Homo sapiens: one gene and its partners. The protein of the gene in region 1 purifies or fractionates together with the protein of each later gene. This does not show direct contact. Each region holds a gene or a part of one and is shown on either strand. Other genes may lie near its edges.

The links.
Region 2: the proteins of IPO7 (region 1) and HP1BP3 purify together in Homo sapiens (affinity purification with mass spectrometry; 3 studies listed by BioGRID and IntAct, with this or other methods). This does not show direct contact.
Region 3: the proteins of IPO7 (region 1) and NUSAP1 purify together in Homo sapiens (affinity purification with mass spectrometry; 2 studies listed by BioGRID and IntAct, with this or other methods). This does not show direct contact.
Region 4: the proteins of IPO7 (region 1) and GRWD1 purify together in Homo sapiens (affinity purification with mass spectrometry; 2 studies listed by BioGRID and IntAct, with this or other methods). This does not show direct contact.

The regions. Positions count from the first base shown.
Region 1 is NC_000011.10:9,443,605-9,448,632, forward strand, and holds the end of IPO7 (importin-7), read left to right. Parts: intron 1-1,492; coding exon 1,493-1,590; 3' UTR 1,591-4,523; downstream 4,524-5,028. UniProt on the Homo sapiens protein: Functions in nuclear protein import, either by acting as autonomous nuclear transport receptor or as an adapter-like protein in association with the importin-beta subunit KPNB1.
Region 2 is NC_000001.11:20,784,308-20,791,991, reverse strand, and holds the start of HP1BP3 (heterochromatin protein 1-binding protein 3), read left to right. Parts: upstream 1-4,684; 5' UTR 4,685-4,797; intron 4,798-5,319; exon of another isoform or gene 5,320-5,806; intron 5,807-7,684. UniProt on the Homo sapiens protein: Component of heterochromatin that maintains heterochromatin integrity during G1/S progression and regulates the duration of G1 phase to critically influence cell proliferative capacity.
Region 3 is NC_000015.10:41,377,879-41,381,596, forward strand, and holds the end of NUSAP1 (nucleolar and spindle-associated protein 1), read left to right. Parts: intron 1-2,214; coding exon 2,215-2,308; 3' UTR 2,309-3,168; downstream 3,169-3,718. UniProt on the Homo sapiens protein: Microtubule-associated protein with the capacity to bundle and stabilize microtubules. May associate with chromosomes and promote the organization of mitotic spindle microtubules around them.
Region 4 is NC_000019.10:48,448,938-48,455,989, forward strand, and holds part of GRWD1 (glutamate-rich WD repeat-containing protein 1), read left to right. Parts: intron 1-1,375; coding exon 1,376-1,589; intron 1,590-1,728; coding exon 1,729-1,871; intron 1,872-2,096; coding exon 2,097-2,294; intron 2,295-3,770; coding exon 3,771-4,088; 3' UTR 4,089-7,052. UniProt on the Homo sapiens protein: Histone binding-protein that regulates chromatin dynamics and minichromosome maintenance (MCM) loading at replication origins, possibly by promoting chromatin openness.

The DNA of each region.
Region 1 (5,028 bases):
AAAAATTTAAACACTTGGCCAGGCGTGGTGGCTCATGCCTGTAATCCCAGCACTTTGGGAGGCCAAGACAGGAGGGTTGCTTGAGTTTGGAAGTTGAAGTCCAGCCTGGGCAACATAGTGAGACATCATCTCTACAAAAAATAAAATTAGCCAGGCATGGTGGTGCATGCCTGTAGTCCCAGCTACTTGGGAGGCTGAGGCTGGAGGATCACTTGAATGTGGGAGGTGTAGGTTATAGTGAGCCATTATTGTGCCACTGTACTCTAGCCTGGGTGCCAGAGTGAGACCCCGTCTCCAAAAATGTAAAAACTTACGAAGTTAAATAGCTCCCAGACATATCTTTTCATCTTTAAATGTTTCAGTGTGCAATTTTTAAAAGTACATTTTAAGCCAGGCGCGGTGGCTCACGCCTATAATCCCAGCACTTTGGGAGGCTGAGGCTGGCGGATTACTTGAGGTCAGGAGTTTGAGAGCAGCCTGGCCAACATACAGTGAAACCCTGTCTTTACTAAAAAACACAAAAATTAGCTGGACATGGTGGTGCACACCTGTAGTCCCAGCTACTTGGGAAGCAGAGGCAGGAGAATCGCTCGAACCTGGGAGGCAGAGGTTGCAGTGAGCCAACATTGCGCCACTGCACTCCAGCCTGGGTGACAGAGTGAAACTCTGTCTCTAAAAAAAAAAATAAACAAAAGTACATTTTAGGTTATACACCATTGTTAATGCAAACAATTATCTATAGACTTTTTTTTATAAATTAAAAAAATTATTTTATTTATTTGTTTGAGTGACACTGTCACCCAGGCTGGAGTGCAGTGGTGCAATCTCGGCTCACTGCCACCTCCATCTCCCGATTTCAAGTGATTCTCGTGCCTCAGCTTCCGAGTAGCTGAGATTGCAGGCACGCACCACCACACCCAACTAATTTTTGTATTTTTAGTAGAGACGAGGTTTCACTATGTTGGCCAGGCTGGTCTCAAAAACTCCTGACTCCTGAGGCGGATGGATCACTTGAGGTCGGGAGTTCTAGACCAACCTGGCCAACATGGTGAAACCCTGCCTCTACTAAAAATACAAAAAATTACCCGGGCGTGGTGGCACGCACTTGTAGTCCCAGCTACTTGGGAGGCTAAGGCAGGAGAGAATCGCTTGCACCTGGGAGGCAGAGATTGCAGTGAGCCAAGATCGTGCCGCTGCACTCCAGCCTGGGTGACAGAGCCAGACTCTGTCTCAAAAAAAAAAAAAAAAAAAGATTTTTTTCTTAACAGTGGGAAGTGAAAATTGGCTAAGAAGTCTACAGCATACAGTAAAAGAGATTATATTCTCTACATAATGCATGCTCCCTTGCCCTTATACATTGGAGAAATCATGGATTTTGGAACTTCCTGGCCACTAATGATGGTTAAGCTACTGGCTTGTTTAATGTTTTGTCAGTTTCTCACCAAGTTAGTAGATGATTGAATGCCCTACTAAAATTTTATTTGTTTTCTAGAATCCAAAATGATTGAGAAGCATGGAGGATACAAATTCAGTGCTCCAGTTGTGCCAAGTTCTTTCAATTTTGGAGGCCCAGCACCAGGGATGAATTGAGTTATCTCTTTCTTTCCTGCTGTGTGCTTGTAGTGAAGAGCTTGTGTTCCTCCTAGTAGTGGTTCCAGAACTGGTTCATGTTATCTATTCTAAACTAATAATCAATAGATGGACAAAAGAAACAACAACCCCAGGAGATGGGACCTGATCATGCAACCTGGCACTGGAAAAGAAATCAGCGGGATTTTGGGGGTGGGGGGGGATGGGAGGTACCTTAGAGGGAGTATTTTCTTTATTTTTTGAAGAAAGTAAGATCCTGACTCTGAAGCTTCAAAGTGACACTGTGGAAATCTGAAACGAGGGGATGTCATGAAGGCAGCTTTTCTTTTTCTGAGGAAAAAATAGGCATGGGCTACAGGACTATTTAAAATGTCTCATTTACAGTATAAAACTCAAAGGTAGATGTAATTTTTACACCTATGAGTATTTGTCCAATTTCTGTCTCTTCCTCACCATTGGGTATCTATTCTTTATATGTAAATAAGATAAGGTCATCTGATAGCCTTATTCAGTCTTCATCATTTTCATCATTGTTCCTATGTAGATTATTGGACATTTATTGTAGCACTACATAACTGATTATAAAAATCTGTAAATGAATTAGCACTTTCATATTGAAACAAGCCTGCTAGCCTATGTATAAAATAGCAAAATGTTTGCTGTTTATAAAAAGATGTAATGGGGTGGGGGGCAGGGGTAATTTCAAGTTATTAATTTAAAAATGAACTAGCAATTTTGTACCTGGTGACTTTGTGGTGCACTCACCTCTGATAGTGACTTGAATTCGGTATGTAAAAAGGGGTTAGTGGTATTTCATTGCTGCTAAAAATGACAACTCCCTCTGTGTCCTGTTTTTCTTAAAGCTGTCAGTGTACAAGTGGGTATTTGAATACCAGACCTTACTGTAAAAAATAAAAAAGGTGGTATCTAGAGCATGTAAATTGGATATAAAGTTCTGCTCTTAAAGAGTTGATCTAAGAGTATGGCTAAACATCTATATATGCAATCTATTAAAAGAACTTAATTCGGCTATTATGTCTTGATTTGATTGCAGTTTTTTCCTAATTATAACAAATTTTTCCTCATTGGCCTGTTTTTAATCCTGTGCCTAGAAGGAGTACAAAATGCACACTTTACAAAATTGATATTTAACACTTACCCACTCCCCTTTCCCCATCTCTTCTACCGCTCTTGTTGATCGTGGTATCTGATCTTGACTAGATAGGCTGAAGGCACATGGTTCCCTCCAAAAACCACTATTGATACCACTACAAAAACAAGCCAGCAAAAAGATACTGTAGAGAGGTTGGCTTGCTTCCCTCTCTTCCTAACTGCATGTTGAAAAATAAGCCGTTATTGATCTTAAACATCGGTCAGATGAGTCATACATTGGGTTATTTTTTATATACATGTATACACAAAATATTTCAAATTGAAAGCAACATCTTAATGGATTCAAAACTATTACAAGCTGTTGTCTAAAACAGGTGAGAAAAAAATTTATAACTGTAAAAACAAATGCACATATTGATATTTAAAATGCGTAATTAAGAAAACCCATTGTTGTTGTGTTTTTCTTGTATACCAATAATTAAGCCACTACTGTTGGCACTGTTTGGTTTTCTATTTTAACACTGAAGGAGTGAAAGTATTTCCTATATTTATGAATTTACTACTAAAATCTTGGCAAAAAAAGAAAAAAATTGTCTAACGTGTGTGGGTGAAAACTGTTAATCAAGTGTTTCTACTCCCCCCCGAAAATCCCCTGAAAGTTGGACACCAACTGTATACCCTAGGTTGCTTAAAGGGATTTCACTATTATATAAAGTCAATAAAAATGAAGTAGTTGTATATATGCAACATTGTGTACAGAGGGGAAATAATGAATAGTATTAAAGAAACATTCTCGTCTTCCTTTACCTTTAATCCCCTAATACCTAGTCTACTTTTTAAATTTTCAGACTTCACTGCTTTTTGAATTCATAATTCTAATTTTCACATTATTGTTAATGGAAAATCATATCTAATAAAGGTTTTAGTTATTCCCATGCACAGTATGAAAATTCTCATTTGCTGAGGTTTTGTTTCAAGAAAATGTATTGGCATGTCTTTGAGAACATGTTTTATTGTCTCCTGTGTCATATAATCCAAACTAATCTCCGTTTACAGACTTTAACTTGAAATTAGACCTTATAATTAAACTATTTAAATAGTGTTCAAATGATAGTTTCTAATGCATCAAATATATACCTCAGTTTTCATGATTTCCTTTAACATTATAATTTGGTATAGATCAAGAATCTTAACATGTATCAGTTTCTAGATGAGGCTGCAGGATTTTTGGAAAACTTTTTGAATGTATTTACAATATTCTCTTGTAATTAGCTACATAGGGACTTGTCTTTTTTTCTTTTTACATACAGCTTTTCCTACAGTTTTATTACCCTGTAATTTTTTTTTAGTTGTAGAAGTTAATTCTGATTTTGTGTGGATTTCAGTATTTGTCTTTGTTAATGGCACATATTAGCATAAATCACTTTTGTAAATGTAAGCTTTCTTTTTTTTTCTTGAAAAAGCCTTTCTATTTATCAGTATTAAATAAAGGAAGTTAATCTGTTTCTCTGCAGGTAATAAAATAGTGACACACTGTATTAAGATAGTGACTGCTATACTCAACTCTGGAAGAGACTAGAGTATAGAGCATGAGTGGCAAAACCACAGCCCTTGGGCCATATGCTGCTATTCAGTCCCAGATGTAGCCCCTGAAGCAAGCATAAAGAAAAATGAATTAAAAATTAAATTAATATGGAAAGTTAAAAAATGGATTACATTAGTATGACTAAACCATGTCTTTGGCAAAGATCTAACACAATGTCTTAAGTATAATAGGTAGTCTCTGTTTGTAAAATAAATGACTTAAATTTAAAACATCAGTTATAAAACTGTCAGTTCTGTTCTTTGTAATTTAAATTTTGGTAAAGATTTTCTGTGACCATTTATCAGTGCCTACTGAATTCTAGCTTTTATCCTTGGTGAGTTGGCCATTCTTGCAATAGCCACTTCACACTTTGGCTCATGGTAAACAAAGGTTACCTGGAAAGTGCTCTTGGAGATAGTACTGGCATCTCTCAATTGGGGGAGTTACCTAAATCAGACCTGCAAATTAGAGAAGGCTAGGATAATAGATTCTTTAACATAAACAGTTAACATTTTAAGTTGACCTGGCAATCCAAAAACTAGCATTAGCAGAAGCAGTATGCTTCTCCAAAGGTCTTCTAGACCCAGGCTGTAACTCAGCTAACTGAAGTGATCCAATACTGTTCTAGGCCCTTCATCCTTTGTATGTAGTATTACCACTGAATAGATTTGTATGTAGTATTATGACTGCATAAAACAAACAATGGGGACAGATATATCCCTTTCCTTTAAGGACCAATA
Region 2 (7,684 bases), on another chromosome or scaffold:
ATTTATTTGACTGTTAACAGCGCTTTTAGAATTCGTTTTCTGATTTTTACCAGAAAACCCCCATGGGGGGAAAAATTCTTCAAACCTGTCCTTGTTAACACAAGGTGGTATGTAAGTAAAATAGGTAGATATATCTTTCGATGCTCAGCCCAGTGACTGTGATGTCATAGCTCTGGTCTGGAATATTCTTAGAATCTGAATCTGCAGTTGCTTTGTGCGCAGTGGCTCATGCCTGCAATCCCAGCATTTTAGGAGGCCAGGCGGGTGGATCATCTGAGGTTAGGAGTTGGAGACCAGCCTGGCCAACATGGTGAAACCCCATCTCTACTAAAAATACAAAAATTAGGCAGGCATGGTGGTGGGCACCCAGCTACTCGGGAGGCTGAGGCAGGAGAATCGCTTGAACCCGGGAGGCGGAGGTTGCAGTGAGCCCAAATCATGCCACTGCATTCCAGTCTGGGCGACAGAGCGAGATTCTTGTCTCAAAAATAAATAAATAAATAAAATTTGAGGAACAGGAAAAAAACAAAAAGCAACCAATCTATTACCTTCACAACAGGCTGTAAAGTCTGCAAAGCTAGCTTTATGCTAAAGTTTCAACAGGGACTTGGCCTCTGAAAAAGTGGGTGTTGAAAATTAGAGATGATACAGTTAGATTGTGAGGACTTCTTAACGCTTGCACTCCTAGTTCACAAACCACTAGGTTTCCTCATCTTTCTGGGACTCCCTAGGCAAGGACTCCCTGAGAATGGATAGCCTTGGGCAGAACTGTGAAGTCATCACAGACAGCCCCTCATTTACTCCTTTCTCTCCCCAGAAGTTCCTACCCTAGTCAGACCTCCGGGGTTCTTATCTTCCGATCCATCCGGAAAGAGGTTTAAAGTAGGAAATCTCAATTATCACTTTAAAAGTGCTATAGAAGAATGGCTGGGAGAGGTGGTGTGCCTATAGTCACAGCTGCTTTGGAGACTGAAGCAGGAGAACTGCTTGAGCCCAGGAGTTTGAGTCCATCCTGGGCAGTACAGCAAGACCCCATCTCTAAAAAAAAAATTCTAGGTGCTGTAGAAGAGAGTGAAGATTAAACCAAAGGAATGAATCTCTGAGTGGCAGAACTTCAGGGACTTTGATGAGTGTGGGAGGTCTCTGAGTGAGAGGGTCTTCCCAGTGCCTGGAAGCTCAGTCTTTGATGGCAGCCTTCTCTAATACACCCCATAAGAGCTGAGCTGCTCTTCTAAACTTGTCAAGGTGGGTCTTTCCACCAATGCAGTTTGTTTACCTTTAGGTAAATGGTACAAAAATCATCATGTAATTGTTGGCTGGGTGTGATGGCTCACGCCTGTAATGCCAGCACTTTGGGAGGCTGAGGCGGGCAGATCACCTGAGGTCAGGAGTTCAAGACCAGCCTGGCCAACATGGTGAAACCCCGTCTCTACTAAAAATACAAAAATTAGCCAGGCATGGTGATGCACATCGGTAATCCCAGCTACTTGGAAGGCTGCGGCATAAGAATCACTTGAACCCAGGAGGTGGAGGTTGCAGTGAGCCGAGATCCCGCCAGTGCACTCCAGCCTGGGTGACAGAGAGAGACTCCATCTCAAAACAAAACAAAACCTATTACATAACACACTTCAATGATCTGTGACTAGTATAGCTTAAATAAAGCCAAGTGAAATAAACTATAAAACTATACCCCTATGGAATCTTTTGATTCAGAGGCAGGTACATACAAAAATCAAAACTGGCCAGATATTAAATATTACATTGAGCAAAGGTAAAGTGCTTTAACTAATAGACATGTACAATAAAAATTTCAGATTCCTGAGTAGAAAACTTTCAACTTCAGTCTTCAGTAAGTGGTAGCCTTAATGCCTGCCCGTGTGTGTGTGTGTGCACTCTCTTGTGGAAAAAAATGTGTTTCAGGATTTTTCCTCCTTTGGTGTTCATGTGGTGAACAACAAAGTAAGATTGATTTTTTGTTGTTGTTTTTTGTTTGTTTGTTTTTGAGACAGAGTCTTGCTCTGTCACCCAGGCTGGAGTGCAACGGCACGATCTCTGCTCACTGCAGTCTCCGCCTCCCAGGCTCAAGGGATTCTCCCCCCTCAGCCTCCTGAGTAGCTGGGATTACAGGCACCCACCACCATGCCCAGCTAAATTTTGTATTTTTGTAGAGACGGTGTTTCATCATGTTGGCCAGGATGGCCTTGAACTCCTGACCTCACGTGATTCCCCTGCCTGTGCCTCCCAAAATGCTGGGATTACAGGTGTGAGCCACTACGCCCAGCCTTGATTTTTTTTTTTTTTTTTTTTTTTTTTTAGACAGGGACTTGCTCTGTCGGACAGGCTAGAGTGCAGTGGTGCAATCTTGGCTCGCTGCAGCCTCCGCCTCCTGGGTTCAAGGGGTTCTCCTGCCCTCAGCCTCTCGAATAGCTGGGATTGCAGGCACGTGCCACACGCCCGGCTAATTTTTGTATTTTTAGTAGGGACAGGGTTTCACCATGTTGGCCAGGCTGGTCTCGAACTCCTGACCTAGGCCTCCCAAAGTGCTGGGATTACAGGCATGAGCCACGACACCCGGCCTGATTGATTTTTGAAACACCTTGTTGCCCACGCTGGAGTGCAGTGTCATCATCACGGCTCACTACAGCCTCGACCACCTGTGCTTAAGTGACCCTCCCATCTCAGCCTCCCATGTAGGTGACCACAGGCGTGTGTCACCACGCCCAGCTAATTTTTTTTTTTTTTTTTGATATGGAGCCTGTCACCCAGGCTGGAGTGCAGTGGCGCGATCTCAGCTCACTGCAACCTCCCTCTCCTGGGTTCAAGTGATTCTCCTTCCTCAGCCTCCCGCGAGTAGCTGGGACTACAGGCTCGTGCAACCATGCTCAGCTAATTTTTTGTATTTTTAGTAGAGACGGGGTTTCACCGTGTTAGTCAGGACGGTCTTGATCTCCTGACCTCGTGATCCGCCCACCTCGGCCTCCCAAAATGCTGGGATTACAAGCTTGAGCCACCGCGCCCGGCCTAATATTTTTATCATATATAGAAAGGGGGTTTCTCCATGTTGCTCCAGGGTGGTCTTAAACCTCCTGGGCTAAAGAGATCCTCCTTTTGGGAACCTAGGCTTCCCAGAGTGCTGGGATTACAGGCATGAGCTACCGTACCCCACCAAGATTGTTTTGAGACAGGGTCTTGCTCTCTCTGGGTGGAGCGCAGTGGTGATCATAGCTCACTGTTGCCTCAAATCCTCGGCTTCAGCGATCCTCCTGCCTCAGCCTCCCGAGTAGCTGGGACTAAAGGCCTTTGCCACCATTCCTGGCTTATTTATTTATTTAGAGATGGGGTCTAATTATGTTGCCCTGGCTGGCCTCGAACTCCTGGCCCCAAGCCTCATGCAATCCTCCCACCTCGGCCTCCCAAAGTGCAGGGACTACAGGCGTAAACCACCATGCTCGGCCTAAGTTTTGTTGTTGTTGTTTTAAGCAAAAATCTGTGGAGGAGGAAACATCTCCCAGTTTGCTCTCATCTGAGTCTGCTTCTTACATGAGATGGGTCTAAAGACATTTTAGGGTAAAAGAAGAACGGTAGGATGTTTTAAATGTACGAATACATAAAAATGGAAGTCTTTGAAAAGGAAGACAACAGAAACGTTAACAACGAAGGGAGTGAGCAGAATGAAGAATGGCATAAAAGAGCAAAACCCCTTCTGAACAGCTGGAATATGACACCAGAGTACTAAAGACTGGTAATGCCATCAGGATATGAATGATAACGCACACCTCGTAAAGAATTTTTTATGCTGGCTGTGAAATTTGAACTGATAGAGTGGGGTGGCTGTGGCAGGGAAAGCTGGTGAGACAATTATGCTAATGGCAGGGCCAGACGACTGGGTGAGTGCTTAAATGGTGTCGTAAGTCTTTATAAACCTTGGCACATACGTTTGAGTACTGGTCATCTACTGTAAGCTTGGGACAATTCTACTGGTATTTCCTTACATTTATTACCCAGTCCCTCCCCTGTCCCCCAACACCTGAAACTTTAAAAACAATCTTTCCAAACTAGCTTTGAAGAGCTGTACTTTTCCTTCGTATGTACGTTGTTTAAGTACGCTGATAGCAACGCAATATGACAATTCAAAGGGAATCCCGTCTTCTAATCTCAGGGTTTTCATTCTGGGGAACTCTCCCTGCATGTGAGGATTAGGGAGCCCGGAAAGCCCGTTTCAACTTTTCAGTTCTGAGTCCCGAGTCACTACTCTGCCCTGTACCGTCTGGAGACTTAATGGGAGCGAGTGCGAGGCAGTGAATTCTCCGCTCTCTAGTTTTCCAATTCTACGGTCTTCAAAAAAAGGTTTGCTCTTGAGCTGCGCCTAAACTGAGAAGCGGGAAAGGCTAGCCCCGCTAAAGGCGGACGAGTGGCAGAAGCGGAAACCCAGTTAAGAGAAGGGACTGCCCTGGAGAGCACAGAAAGCGAAGGTTAGCGGGGGAAAGCGGCGCCCCTCCGAGGAAACCGACACCGCCCCGCCACGCCAAGGCAATGGGCGCCACCACGCAGCGCCGGGAACGCGCGCCGACGCCCCGCGCTCCGCCGGCGTCCGCCCGTCCCCGCGCGCCCCCTCGCACCCCACGCGCGGGAGGCGGGGCCGGCGGGGGCGCGCGCGGGGCCGCGGGTAGGGGGGCGGGGCGGCAGAGCTCGGCGGCTGGGACTGGAGGACAGCGGTGGCGGAGGCGACTAGCGGCGGCGGGAGCGGCGCCGAGAGGCCGTGCGGGACGCGGGCGCCAGGACCGGCCGAACGCAGAGGTAACGCAGGACCGAACAGGCGGCCGGGGAGTGGGCGCGGGCTCGCTGGGCCCCGAAGGCGAGTGGCGGAGGCCGCTCGCCCGGGGCGCCGACGCCGCTCCCAGAGAGGAGGGGGCGGGGCGCCCGGGTCCCCGGAGGTGGCGCCTTTTGTCTGCCTTACCCGGCCGCTCCGCCCCGCTCCCTTCCTCTCTCCTGCGACCTAGCCCCCTGCCCTTTTGGTGGACTCCTCCTCAGGGGCCCTCCGGCGCGCGCGCTCCCGCCCTTGTTTTGTTTGGATTTGGGGGAGGAGGGGGAGCTCTTCTCTGGCCGTGCGACCCTGCGTCCCAGCGCGCCTGCGTCGGCGTCCTCTGCCCGCCCCGATTGGCTGAGGGCTGCGCATGCTCCGAGGCCCGCCGCGGTCCGGCGTCCGCCCGCGCCCTCCCCTCACCCCACTCCCTCAGCGGTTTTCGGAGCCGGTTCGAAAGATGCCGGCGGCGGTGACTGGCTGCGGCGGGCCCGCCCCCCGGGTTCTCCGCCCCCGCCGCCGCCATTACGGAGCTCCCAGTGGTGAGTGTGCGGAGCGCCGAGGCTCGCGTTCCGCCGCTGCTTCCGTCGCCGGGGCGGGCGCCGCGGTGTCCCTGCCGAGCGTGAGCCCCGAACTGTCACCGCGCCGAGCCCCAGCCTCATCCGTCGGTGTCCGCGGTCCGAGCTTTCCCCGCCTCGCTGGCGGCCCGCGCTCTCCCCCGCCGTGCGCGTTCGCCGCTGTGGCCTGTAGCTACCTCGCCTCGCTGCTTTGTCTCCGCTGCTCTTGCCGTCCTTCCCGCGGCCTTCTGCGGGCGGGGCTGTCGGCTGTCGCTTTGCTGCTCCGCGACGGCGGCCTTGAGTCTCGCTCCCCCGGTGGGAAACGTAGAACTGGTTACTCGCCACCTTAGGCGGTGGGGTTTGAATGAGAGCGGTGCCTCGGTAGGTCGTCAGAAAGTTACAGTCGCCCATCTGAGCGTTTGTAAGAGATGGAGGCAGGAGTGGTGAGGTGAGAGCCCCAGATCTGAGGGTTGGTACTGCATTAACAGCTGTGACCGGGGACAGCCACTTAACCTTTTTGAGAAAGAGTTGTCTCCCGTACGGAGACCGGACCGGGTGAACTGTGCTGCCGCATCCGCGTGCACGTTCTCTCTGTTGTTTATTGTGCTTCCTGACTTTGCATTGCATTAAAAAGTGAGAATCCAATTCGAAATAACGTCTAAAAATCGCCTGGGGCTTTTTGAGCACGCTGTCTTGTCTTAGAGTGAAATTAGAGGTGACTAGTGTCATTTTTGAAAGGTGCTCTAATTTTGTTTAACCTGACATAGGCAAAAAACTTGTTAGCTTTTTGATTTTTCATTGCTCTTCTCAAAAGTTTAGTGTAATTTGTTTCAAAATAGAAGTAACATTTTAAAGTTTGCTGGGTTGGTTGGTTTTGGCTTTGTTTTTAAGCTTGCTTGGAAGATTGTAGGGCTGGAAGTTAGTGGAGAACGTATACTGAACTCTTCATTTCCGGATGAAAGTTTTAACTCCTTACCCAGTTAGATTGTGATTTTATTGAGATGAGACACTGTAGTGTCCTTAGTATCTATGCCCAAAACAGACACTGAGTATATGTTTGCTTATATAACTTACATTTGAAAATGAAAAACAAGTGGTGTCAGCAGTCAAATTACAGGCATGCTTTTTGTGACATGACTCGTTAAATCTGAGTGTAGTGAATGACTTAAGATTGGGAACAATGTGAGGTGTTCAGCGCATCACTAATGACATGTATTACATATATTTTATGGTAAAATGTGAAATTATAGTGCTTTCCCTAAAATGCATATTATCAAGGATATCAGTAAACTGAAATACGTTGTTAAACTCCTCACTTTTCTACAGCCTTCTCTTAATGTAGAGGAAATAAATTAAAACTGAAATTTGGGGCTTTTTATTTCTACAATACTTTTTTTTATTGCTTGCATTCAAATAATTTAAAGCCGTGCATGGTGGCTCACACCTGTAATCCTAACACTTTGGGAGGCCAAAGAGGAGGATCGCTTGAATCCAGGAGTTAGAGACCAGCTTGGGCAACCCTGTCTCTACAGAAAATACAAAAACTATCCGGCTGTGGTGGCGCATACCTGAAGTCCCAGCTACTCAGGTGGCTGAGGTGGGAGGAGATCGCTTGAGCCCAGGAGGTCGAGGCTACAGTGATCCCTGGTCATGCCACTGTACTCCAGACTGAGACTCTGTCTCAAAATAAACAACCGATTTAATTTAAGCATTTCCCTTGACAAAAAGCAAATATTTGTTATTGTTGTAACATTAAGTTTAAGCAAGCTGATGTTCATAAGAGGACCATGTAAACCACAAGTAAACTCAGACTGTTTATTTTTGGCACATATAAAAACCAAGATGAAAAACATGAATAGGCCGGGCACGGTGGCTCACGCCTGTAATCCCAGCCCTTTGGGAGGCTGAGGTGGGCGGATCACGAGGTCAGGAGATCGAGACCATCCTGGCTAACACGGTGAAACCCCGTCTCTACTGAAAATACAAAAAATTAGCTGGGTGTCGTGGCGGACGCCTGTAGTCCCAGCTACTCAGGAGGCTGAGGCAGGAGAATGGCGTGAACCGGGAGGGGAGGTTGCAGTGAGCCGAGATCGCGCCACCGCACTCCAGCCTGGGCGACAGAGCAAGACTCGGTCTCAAAAAAAAAAAAAAAAAAAAGGGAAAACACAAATAAGTTTTATTTGTTCATCCTTTAGTTTAACAAATATTAATTGAGCATCTATTCTGTGCCTGGTATGTTCTTAGGCATCAGGTATGCAGCAAATGAACCAGGTAGATAAGATCCCTGCCAGGAACAAGTGTGGCAGCCTCAAAATTTGATCATTCA
Region 3 (3,718 bases), on another chromosome or scaffold:
TAGTCCCAGCTACTCGGGAGACTGAGGCAGGAACCTGGGAGGCAGAGCTTACAGTGAGCCGAGATCACGCCACTGCACTCCAGCCTGGGCGACAGAGTGAGACTCCGTCTCAAAAAAAAAAAAAAGTGGTATCGTGTATATAACTTTCTGAGTACATCTGCCTAGGTTCCAGTGTAATGGACTCCAAATCAGCAGATTTGGGGTGAGGCCCAAGCACCTGCATTGTTTCCAAGGCTCTGCAGGTGATTCAGAAGAAGACCCAGATTCAGAGCACTGCTCTTGCATGACTCATCTGCCTAAACACAGGGCATGTGGGTATCTCTCCAGATACCAATGCCCAGCAGCCCAGGGCACCTACATATCCAGATAGACATAAATTCCTCACTCCTAAGAAAACCAGGCTTACAAGGCGTCAAGGCCCTATAAAGAGGAAAAACCCAGGACGGTCCTTAGAGGCTTCCTTCAGCATGAAAACCAAGTTAAAGCCAGAGCTCATCCTGGGTTGCAGCAAGTCATGGTTGGGCCCAGATTCCCTGCTTGGACCCTCGTGACACAGGGTTACCTGTCAGTTGACTCATGGCTATACACGACTGCCACCAGGGCCTTTGCTCACCGTTATTAAGTTGGCCAGGCAAGGTGGCTCACGCCTGTAATCCCAGTACTCTGGGAGGCCAAGGCGGGTGGATCACGATGTCAGGAGTTGAAGACATGGAGAAACCCCATCTCTACTAAAAATACAAAATTAGCCGGGCGTGGTGGCACATACCTGTAATCCCAGCTACTCGGGAGGCTGAGGCAGCAGAATCACTTGAACCCGGGAGGCGGAGGTTGTGGCGAGCTGAAATTGCACCATTGCACTACAGCCTGGGCAACAAGAGCAAAACTCCGTCTCAAAAAAGAAAAAAGAAATCAAAGTCAAAGGTCAAGCTCAAAATCACATAGTTTAGTGAAAGGAATAGAACTAGAACCAGGATCTACTGAGTTAGCCATTATGCTCTACTTTCAGAGGATTAGACAAACCAAAAAAAAAAAAGAAAAAGCCCAAGATTATATTAACTTATCTTGGTTTTTTTTTTTTTTTTTTTTTTTTTTTGAGATGGAGTCTCGCTCTGATGCCCAGGCTAGAGTGTGGTGGTGCGATCTTGGCTCACTGCAACCTCTGCCTCCCAGGTTCAAGTGATACTGCTGCCTCAGCCTCCCGAGTAGCTGGGATTACAGGTTCCCGCCCCCGCGTGCAGCTAATTTTTGTATTTTTAGTAGAGACGGGGTTTTACCATCTTGGCCAAGCTGGTCTCAAACTGCTGATCTCAGGTGATCCACCCACCTTGGCCTCCCAAAGTGCTGGGATTACAGGCGTGAGCTACCACACCTGGTCAACTTTGATTTCTAGGTGTAGACATTTCTCATTTAAAACAAATTTTTTTTTTTTTCTTAGAGACAGGGTCTTACTTTTTGTCACCCAGACTGGAGTACAATGGCATGATCATAGCTTACTTTGGCCTTGAACTCCTGGGCACAAGGGATCCTCCCACCTTGGCCTCCCAAAATGCTGGGATTATAGGTGTGAGCCACTGCATCTGGCCTAAAGCAAACTGTAAAATAACAAGAGTTGGATTCAATCAGCAAGGTGTCTCCTGACTCCAATTCCATGCATGATTTTATTATTTATTTTTGTTTGTTTGTTTTGAGACAGTCTCATTCTGTCGCCCAGTCTGGAGTGCAGTGGCGTGATCTCGGCTCACTGCAACCTCCGCCTCCCGGGTTCAAGGGATTCTCCTGCCTCAGCCTCCCCAGTAGCTGTGATTATAGGCATGCACCACCACACCTGGCTACCTTTTTTGTATTTTTAGTAGAGACGGGGTTTCACCATTTTGGCCAGGCTGGTCTCGAACTCCTGACCTCAAGTGATCTGCCTGCCTTGGCCTCCTAACGTGCTGGGATTTCAGGCATGAGCCATCGCGCCCCGGCCTCCATGCATGATTTTAGAGTGCTGAGTTAACAAAAGGAAAATACCAGTTTCTAACCCTTTAACACAACAATGACGAACAGGTGTTAGAAACACTAGGCAGAGCACAGTGCCCTCTAAGAGTCTGTTTTACACAAGTATGCTGGATGTCATTGCTTGGAAGTTTGGGTGTTAGTCCAACAATAGTTGCTTTAAAGTATCTGTTTTGGAGCCTCCCTAGAGCTTAATGTGTGACCTATCCCTCTCAGGGAAGAGCAACGGAAGAAACGCGAGCAAGAACGAAAGGAGAAGAAAGCAAAGGTTTTGGGAATGCGAAGGGGCCTCATTTTGGCTGAAGATTAATAATTTTTTAACATCTTGTAAATATTCCTGTATTCTCAACTTTTTTCCTTTTGTAAATTTTTTTTTTTTGCTGTCATCCCCACTTTAGTCACGAGATCTTTTTCTGCTAACTGTTCATAGTCTGTGTAGTGTCCATGGGTTCTTCATGTGCTATGATCTCTGAAAAGACGTTATCACCTTAAAGCTCAAATTCTTTGGGATGGTTTTTACTTAAGTCCATTAACAATTCAGGTTTCTAACGAGACCCATCCTAAAATTCTGTTTCTAGATTTTTAATGTCAAGTTCCCAAGTTCCCCCTGCTGGTTCTAATATTAACAGAACTGCAGTCTTCTGCTAGCCAATAGCATTTACCTGATGGCAGCTAGTTATGCAAGCTTCAGGAGAATTTGAACAATAACAAGAATAGGGTAAGCTGGGATAGAAAGGCCACCTCTTCACTCTCTATAGAATATAGTAACCTTTATGAAACGGGGCCATATAGTTTGGTTATGACATCAATATTTTACCTAGGTGAAATTGTTTAGGCTTATGTACCTTCGTTCAAATATCCTCATGTAATTGCCATCTGTCACTCACTATATTCACAAAAATAAAACTCTACAACTCATTCTAACATTGCTTACTTAAAAGCTACATAGCCCTATCGAAATGCGAGGATTAATGCTTTAATGCTTTTAGAGACAGGGTCTCACTGTGTTGCCCAGGCTGGTCTCAAACTCCACCAAATGTACTTCTTATTCATTTTATGGAAAAGACTAGGCTTTGCTTAGTATCATGTCCATGTTTCCTTCACCTCAGTGGAGCTTCTGAGTTTTATACTGCTCAAGATCGTCATAAATAAAATTTTTTCTCATTGTCATAGATTCATTCTTTGTAAACATAAGTCTTCCAAGATTTAGGTGAGCAGCTAGGCTTAACAAGAGTTTATACATACCCTTGGTATGCCCTTTCCTGACCACTGCTTCCATTCAAAAAAGAAACGGCAGTATGCTTCCTTTATATTCCCAGAGTACCTCTCAGGTTTTATTAAATGCTGTTTTGTATATACGAGGCTTTAGGACATGGCACACTTCCGGGTACTGGAAACATTCAGATTTTCCTATCAAGGGGAAGAGATCAGATCAATTTTAAAAATTCAGGGTCAAATACACATCTGATGGAAATGTAAAATGTCACAACCACTTTGGAAAACAGTTTGCTAGTTTCTTTGAAAAGTTAACAGTATGTCTACCGTGTAATCTAGCCATGCCATTAGGTAGTGAGACCCTATCTGAAAAAAGAAAAAACCACCAGGATCTTACATAGAGAAAATCCTAAGGATTTCACTAAAAAGCTCCTAGAACTAATAAATTCAGTAAGGTTGCAACGTACAAGATCAATACCCAACAATTATGGCCAGACACAGTGGC
Region 4 (7,052 bases), on another chromosome or scaffold:
AAAGTGGTCCCTCTGGCTGCTGTCCTTAAATATCAATTGCAGAGAGGTAAGGGTCGGAGGAAAGAATCCTGTGGGGAGACTTACGGTATTCAGGGGAAGGATGACATCAGTAGTAGTGTGACAGCAATAGACATCATGAGAAGGGGGTTGGAAGTGAGCTTTTTTTTTTAGATGAGACAGAGTCTCGCTTTTGTCGCCCAGGCCGGAGCGCAATGGTGCGATCTCGGCTCACTGCAACCTCTGACTCCTGGGTTCAAGCGATTCTCCTGCCTCAGCCTCCTAAGTAGCTGGGATTACAGCCACCCACCAGCACGCCCGACTAATTTTTGCATTTTTAGTAGAGGCGGGGTTTCATCATGTTGGCCAGGGTGGTCTCGCTCCTGACCTCAGGCAGTCTGCCCTCCTCGGCCTCCCAAAGTGCTGGGATTACAGGTGCGAGCCACCGCGCCTGGCCCTGGAAGTGAGCATTTTTACTGTAGTCAGCATAGGTGCTGGGCATGAGGACCAAGAATGAGTTCTGAATTTTGGGGCCTGAGGTGGAGAGAGAGCAGTTGCAGGTGGCAATTAGGAGCTTGGCTTTGGTTGTATCAAGTTTGAATGGTCAGGCTGGCACAGTGGCTGATGCCTGTAATCCCAGCACTTTGGAAAGCTGATGCAGAAGGATCGCTTGAGACCAGGAGTTCCAGACCAGCCTGGGCAATAAAGTGAGACCCTGTCTCTACAAAAAAATTTTAAAAGCCAGATGTGATGGTGCTTACCCATAGTCCCAACTACTTGGGAGGCTGAGGTGAGAGGATCACTTGAGCCCAGGAGGTTGAGGCTGCAGTGAGCCATTATGGCATCACTGCACTCCGTCCTGGGCAACAGAGCGGGACCCTGTCTCAAAAACAAAAAAGTTTGAACGGTCAATGCAGTAAGAGTCTGGAGCCCAGGGGAGAGGTCAGGGCTAGGGGTATTGGAAACCTCGTGGCTGGACTGGGTCTCCTAGTGAACAAACACAGAGGCAAGGAGATCCGAGGACTGAGTCTTGTGGCCTTCTAGCATTTAGAGGGTTACCGAGACCAGGAGCCTGAACACCCTCCCAAGGGCTGGTGGGAATTGCAGCCTCAACTCCCAGGCATCCTGGGGCTCTATCCTCCCACCTCAGCTCCCCCACCCACTCCCACCCCCTGTGGAGAGCTGTCCCAGTTACCATGCTGGTTTTTGCAGGTTGTGATTTTCTTCCCACAGAGGTTTCAAGGAGCTGTAGTCCCAGGCCTGGGAGATCTGAGGAAGCGCACTTCTGGTTCTCTGGGATATGGGGAGCGTGGGGTCAGTGCCTTGATCCTCCTCTCCCCTCGCTTCACATCACCCTTCCCCCACCGCTCTTCTGCAGGTGTCATGGCTGGGTGAAGAGCCTGTGGCTGGGGTGTGGTCAGAGAAGGGCCAGGTGGAGGTGTTTGCGCTGCGGCGGCTTCTGCAGGTGGTGGAGGAGCCCCAGGCCCTGGCAGCCTTCCTCCGGGATGAGCAGGCCCAAATGAAGCCCATCTTCTCCTTCGCTGGACACATGGGCGAGGGCTTTGCCCTTGACTGGTCCCCCCGGGTGACCGGTGAGTCCCTGGGGTGTTCAGGAGTCCCGGGAGGTCGGGGGAGCAGGGTCTGCAACAAGGGGCCGGGCGCTTAGACTCCAAGGAGGGGAGCGAGCTGCGGCCAGGTGGGGCGAGGTCATTTCCTGACTCCCTTCCCCAGGTCGCCTGCTGACCGGTGACTGTCAAAAGAACATCCACCTCTGGACACCTACGGACGGCGGCTCCTGGCACGTGGACCAGCGGCCATTCGTGGGCCACACACGCTCTGTGGAGGACCTGCAGTGGTCACCGACTGAGAACACGGTGAGGGAGGGTGGGGTTCTGGTCGTTTAGTTCTGATGGATTCTAGGCCAGGGACCTAGAATCCTAGGTCTGAGGGAAAAGAGGGCTGGGAGCCTGACGGAGGTTTAGTTTCCAGGCCAAGTCATAGTAAGGGGAACAGTGAAAGAGAGAGTAGCCCACCGCTGGCGCTTGGGCTTCACTGCGGGCTGGGGGGCATTGGGACCACTCAGACTCCGCCTCCCCCAGGTGTTTGCCTCCTGCTCAGCTGACGCCTCCATCCGCATCTGGGACATCCGGGCAGCCCCCAGCAAGGCCTGCATGCTCACCACAGCCACCGCCCATGATGGGGACGTCAATGTCATCAGCTGGAGCCGCCGGGAGCCCTTCCTGCTCAGTGGCGGGGATGATGGGGCCCTCAAGATCTGGGACCTTCGGCAGTTCAAGGTATTTTCCCAGCCGGACACCTGGGGGCTAGAGAAGCTTGCTCCCAGCAGCCCCTGGGATTTGTAGGATTTTTCCTCCTTGAATAGTTTTACACAACCAGAGCTGGAGAGCCCTTAGAACTAGACTCCTGCCTCTTCAGGGTACAGAGGAGGAAACTGAGGCTCAGCAAGAGGAAGGGTGGCGGGTCTCCACTCTTGGGGTCACTCACTCTACCAGGGGAACAGCTGACAAGAGATGGAAGGGGCTGGGGCAGCAGAGACTAGGACTCTCATCTGCCTGTGGGCAGAAGTACAGGTGTCTGTACGGCCAGTGCTGAGAGCTTCAGAGAGTTGTAGATTTCTAGATGCAACTGAGAATCGGGGCCCAGCCTGCTCGTTGTAGGAGAAGACTGAGGCACAGAAAGGACAGGAGCCGCTGTGACATGACAGCCAAGCTAGAGGTTGACATTGTGGAGCTGGGAGGGTCCCTGTGCAGGAGAAGTTGCAGCGTCCGGCATCCCTCTGGACAAAGCCGCAGCTTTGTGTGGCTCTGCCTTCCCGGGCTGCCATGATGTCATCCTTTTTCTCCTCCAGTTTGATCGTTTCTATAGCGTCAGCCCTGGGGAGGAGGCTGGAGACGGATTCCAGCCTCCCAGGCCCACCAGGTCACACAGGGCCCAGCTTGTTGACCATTGGAACTTCAGAGCAGCCTCTCCTAATGAGAGAGACGCCAATTGAGCGGGGCCTTTGCTGTAGTGAAAGTGCTGTCATTCTTAGTCTTTCTTTGGGTCGGCTTCCGGGGATTGTGTTTCTGCCTCCTTTGAGGCCTTTGTAGAATCTGCTGGGAGAGCTCTGGGAGAGCCATGCCCTCCTTTTTTTCTTTTTTTTTTTTTTTTTCTTTTTTTTTGCGATGGAGTTTTGCTCTTGTTTCCCAGGCTGGAGTGCAGTGGCGCAATCTCGGCTCACTGCAACCTCCCGCTCCTGGGTTCAAGCGATTCTCCTGCCTCAGCCTCCTGAGTAACTGGGATTACAGGCATGTGACACCAGCCCGGCTAATTTTGTATTTTTAGTAGAGATGGGGTTTCACCATGTTGTTCAGGCTGGTCTCCAACTCCTGACCTCGGGTGATCCACCCGCCTTGGCCTCCCAAGGTGCTGAGATTACAGTCGTGAGCCACCGCACCCAGCCCATGCCCTCCTTTTACAAGGAAGAAAACAGGCAGGCAGAGGGAAGAGCAGGGGCGGGGGTTTTGCTACCTGAGCTGGGAGGGGCTTCTTTGCAGGTGAATCACAGTTCCCAGCAACCCCTGGGCTGGTCAGCCTTCTTAGCAGCCAGAATTACCCTGTGTCCCTTTCCTGGACTCTGGGCTTGTGAGGGCTTAAGGGGTGGGGCCCTGGCTGAACCCTGAGGCTGGAGAAGGGTTGGGGCTTCTGCCTGGGTCCTCCCCAGAGTCAGGCTGAGGCATTCAGAGCCCGTTCCTCCCATCCTCTCCCTCTAGTCTGGTTCCCCAGTGGCCACCTTCAAGCAGCACGTGGCCCCCGTGACCTCCGTCGAGTGGCACCCCCAGGACAGCGGGGTCTTTGCAGCCTCGGGTGCAGACCACCAGATCACACAGTGGGACCTGGCAGTGGAGCGGGACCCTGAGGCGGGCGACGTGGAGGCCGACCCCGGACTGGCCGACCTCCCGCAGCAGCTGCTGTTCGTGCACCAGGGCGAGACCGAGCTGAAGGAGCTGCACTGGCACCCGCAGTGCCCAGGGCTCCTGGTCAGCACGGCGCTGTCAGGCTTCACCATCTTCCGCACCATCAGCGTCTGAGGCGTCCCACTGGCTCTGATCTTGCTTCCTGCTTGGAAACTGAAGTCGAATTGGGCTCCCCTGGAAGGGGTTCATTCAGGTCTGTTGACTGAGACTGGCCGGCCTGTGGGCTGCCGTGATGGATTCTGTTTGACGTATTGTTCTCTAGAAGGCCTGGCTCTGATCCAGTGACCCCTCTCACCAAAGAACTCGGTTTAACCAGGGCTCTGTAAGACCACTCCCACCCAGAGACTTGTGTGGCCTGGTGTGGCCTGTGTGTCGGATTCCTTCCTGTCAGCTGTGACCCATTTGACCTGTGTCCCCAGAACCCAGTTTTTTGTTTGTTTGTTTGAGACGGAGTCTTGGTCTGTCGCCCAGGCTGGAGTGCAGTAGCACGATCTTGGCTCACTGCAACCTCCGCCTCCTGGGTTAAAGTGATTCTCTCAGCTCAGTCTCCCAGGTAGCTGGGATTACAGGCATGTGCCACCACACCCCGTTAATTTTTGTATTTTTAGTAGAGACGGGGTTTCACCATGTTGGCCAGGCTGGTCTCAAATTCTTGATCTCAAGTGATCTGTCCGCCCCGGCCTCCCAGAGTGCTGGGTTGGGATTACAGGCGTGAGCCACCGCGTCCGGCTCAGGACCCAGTTTTGGCTGCTGGTTCCCAGCAGGGGACTCGGGGGATATACAGTGGCTGCACCAAATTGGAGGTGTGGGTTCCTCCAACACAATTTGCTTCTGCCCGTTGTCTTCCTGCCAGCTGGGTTTGGCCAGGATTTCTCCGTGTGGGGGCTACATGCGACCCTCTCCCCTCCTCCCTGACTTTAGAGGCTGGTGCTGTGTCGGGAGGAAGGTCAGGGCTCCTGAGCAGCAATAAAGGACCAGGAAGAGGCCTGAGGTGTATTTGAGACTCTGGTCCTTTGGCCACAGCCCTATGAGGAAACGGGGTGTGGGGGGAGTTTGGGGGTGGGGAGGAATTTGGCACCAGCTGCCCCCAGGCCGCTAGGCTGGGGGAGGCCACTGGGAGTCCAGTGCAACCCAACCTTCCGCCCACTGGGTGCCGCCGCGTTCTGCCTTCTCTAAGTGTCCTTCCATCTGGAACTCACTCTGGCTTAGTGAAAGGGGCCTCATCCCTGACCCCCACCAGCTTATGAAGGCTTCATCTCAGGGAACTCTGGACCCCCCATTTCTCCCTCCGTCCATCTCCCCTTTATCACGTTTCTTTCTTTCTTCTCTGTGTCCCCCTCTTTCAGAGTCTCCCGTCCCCCACTGCCAGTCTCCCTGCCCCCTAGTCGCTGTCTCGCTCCTCCGCCGCTGTCTCCTGTCCAGCCTGCCTGGGCTGTGGCCCAGCCGCTCTGCCTGGCTGGCCTCCCTGGCTCCCCCTCTGCGGCTCTGAGCTAGCCCCACCCCCGGCCCCCCTCCATCCAGCCTCTGATCCATCTGTGGACTCCGAGGTCGGGTGCCCGTCACACGGCCCCTGGGACCAAGGACAGACTACAGCCCCTCAGCACCCACAGAGGCTTCCCCTCAGCCCTAGCCGAGGAGCCCCCAGCGGAGGGCATGGGGGTGGGCCGCCCCAACAGGTACGTGCCTCCATGCAAGGCACCGCTGAGCCATCCCCTCCTGCTCTGCTGCGTCGCCCCCATCCACCCCTGCCCCAGCATCCCTGTCCTCAGCTTGTCCCCTTCAAGAAGGCCTTGTCTTCCCATCAGTGACAGGCTCAGCGCCAGGAGAATCCACCCCCAGGTTCAGTGCCTCCAACTCTCACCCCATCCCCATTTTATGCATTTTCTCACTGGCTTCCATCCTTTCAGAGAAACCCTCTCAGTCTGTCTGTCTCTGTCTCTGTCTCTCTCCCCCATCTCTGTCTCTCCCATCTCTCTCTGCCTCTCTCTGTCTTCACAATTTCATCTCCCCATGTCGCCATTTCTTAAAACATTTCTTTTCTCCTTTTCGTTTTCCCAATTGCCCTGTCCGCCTCTATCTTCTCTGTCCCCCTCCATCTAGGTCTCTGTCCCCCCCTCTCTCTGGGTCTCTGTCCCCCTCTGTCTCTGAGTCTCTATCCTCTCAAGGTCTCTGTTCCCCTCTCTCTGGGTCTCTGTCCTCTCTCAAGGTCTCTGTCCCTTTCTCTCTGGATCAATGTCCCTTTCCTGCTGCCCTCTCTGGGTCTCTGTCCCCCTCTCTCTCAGGGTCCCTGTCCTGCTTGGTCCCTGTACTTTTTCTTGGGGCACCCTCTCAACACCCCTCCTCCTGCCTATCTCTGCATCTCTTTGTCTTTCTGTAGTCTCTGCTTTCCAACCTGCTGTCCAGCCCCCACCAGTAGGTGGGGAGTGGTGGGGAACACCCCTGGTTTCGGAAGAGTGAGAGTGTTGATTTGGGAGGGTGAGGGTGGGGCCTGGGGGCGGGGCTTCTTGGCCTCAGATTAGACAGTGACTTTGACACGAAGTTGAAGCACCTTAAGCCCTGTATCTCCTTTATATGGAAACATTAAGCTGCTCTCGCAGGTCAGGTGGAGGATCCCTTTCCCTCCCGCCCTGCTTTTGCTAGGGGAGGGGGGTGCCCTGAGCCTGAGTCGCAGCCAGCCTGGGAGCTGGGCCATGTTGGCCGCAGATGGCCCCCTGGTGAAGGTTCCCGTTGGCTTTGGGAAGTAGACAACGGGTCTGCCTCACGGGGCTGAGGTGGGACTGGAGGATTTCGAGGGCAGAACTCTGGGAAGGAAAGAAAGGCTTAGGACCCAACCAGCATTCCCCCTGGCACTGCGGGGGCCTGGCCAGCTCATGGCGTTCCCTGAGCCTGTTCCCCAACTGTGAAAGGGGGTGATGATCTTCACCTCCCGGCATCCTGAGCGGCCAAGGTGAGCAGTGGGGTCTGAGAGTCCAGTGGGGGCTGTGGGCATGTCGGGAGCTCATCACGAGGCCTCGTACATACCAGGTGTGTTTGAAACCAGAGTGCTCTTGAGAAGACTGTGGTTTGTCACTCGGGCCG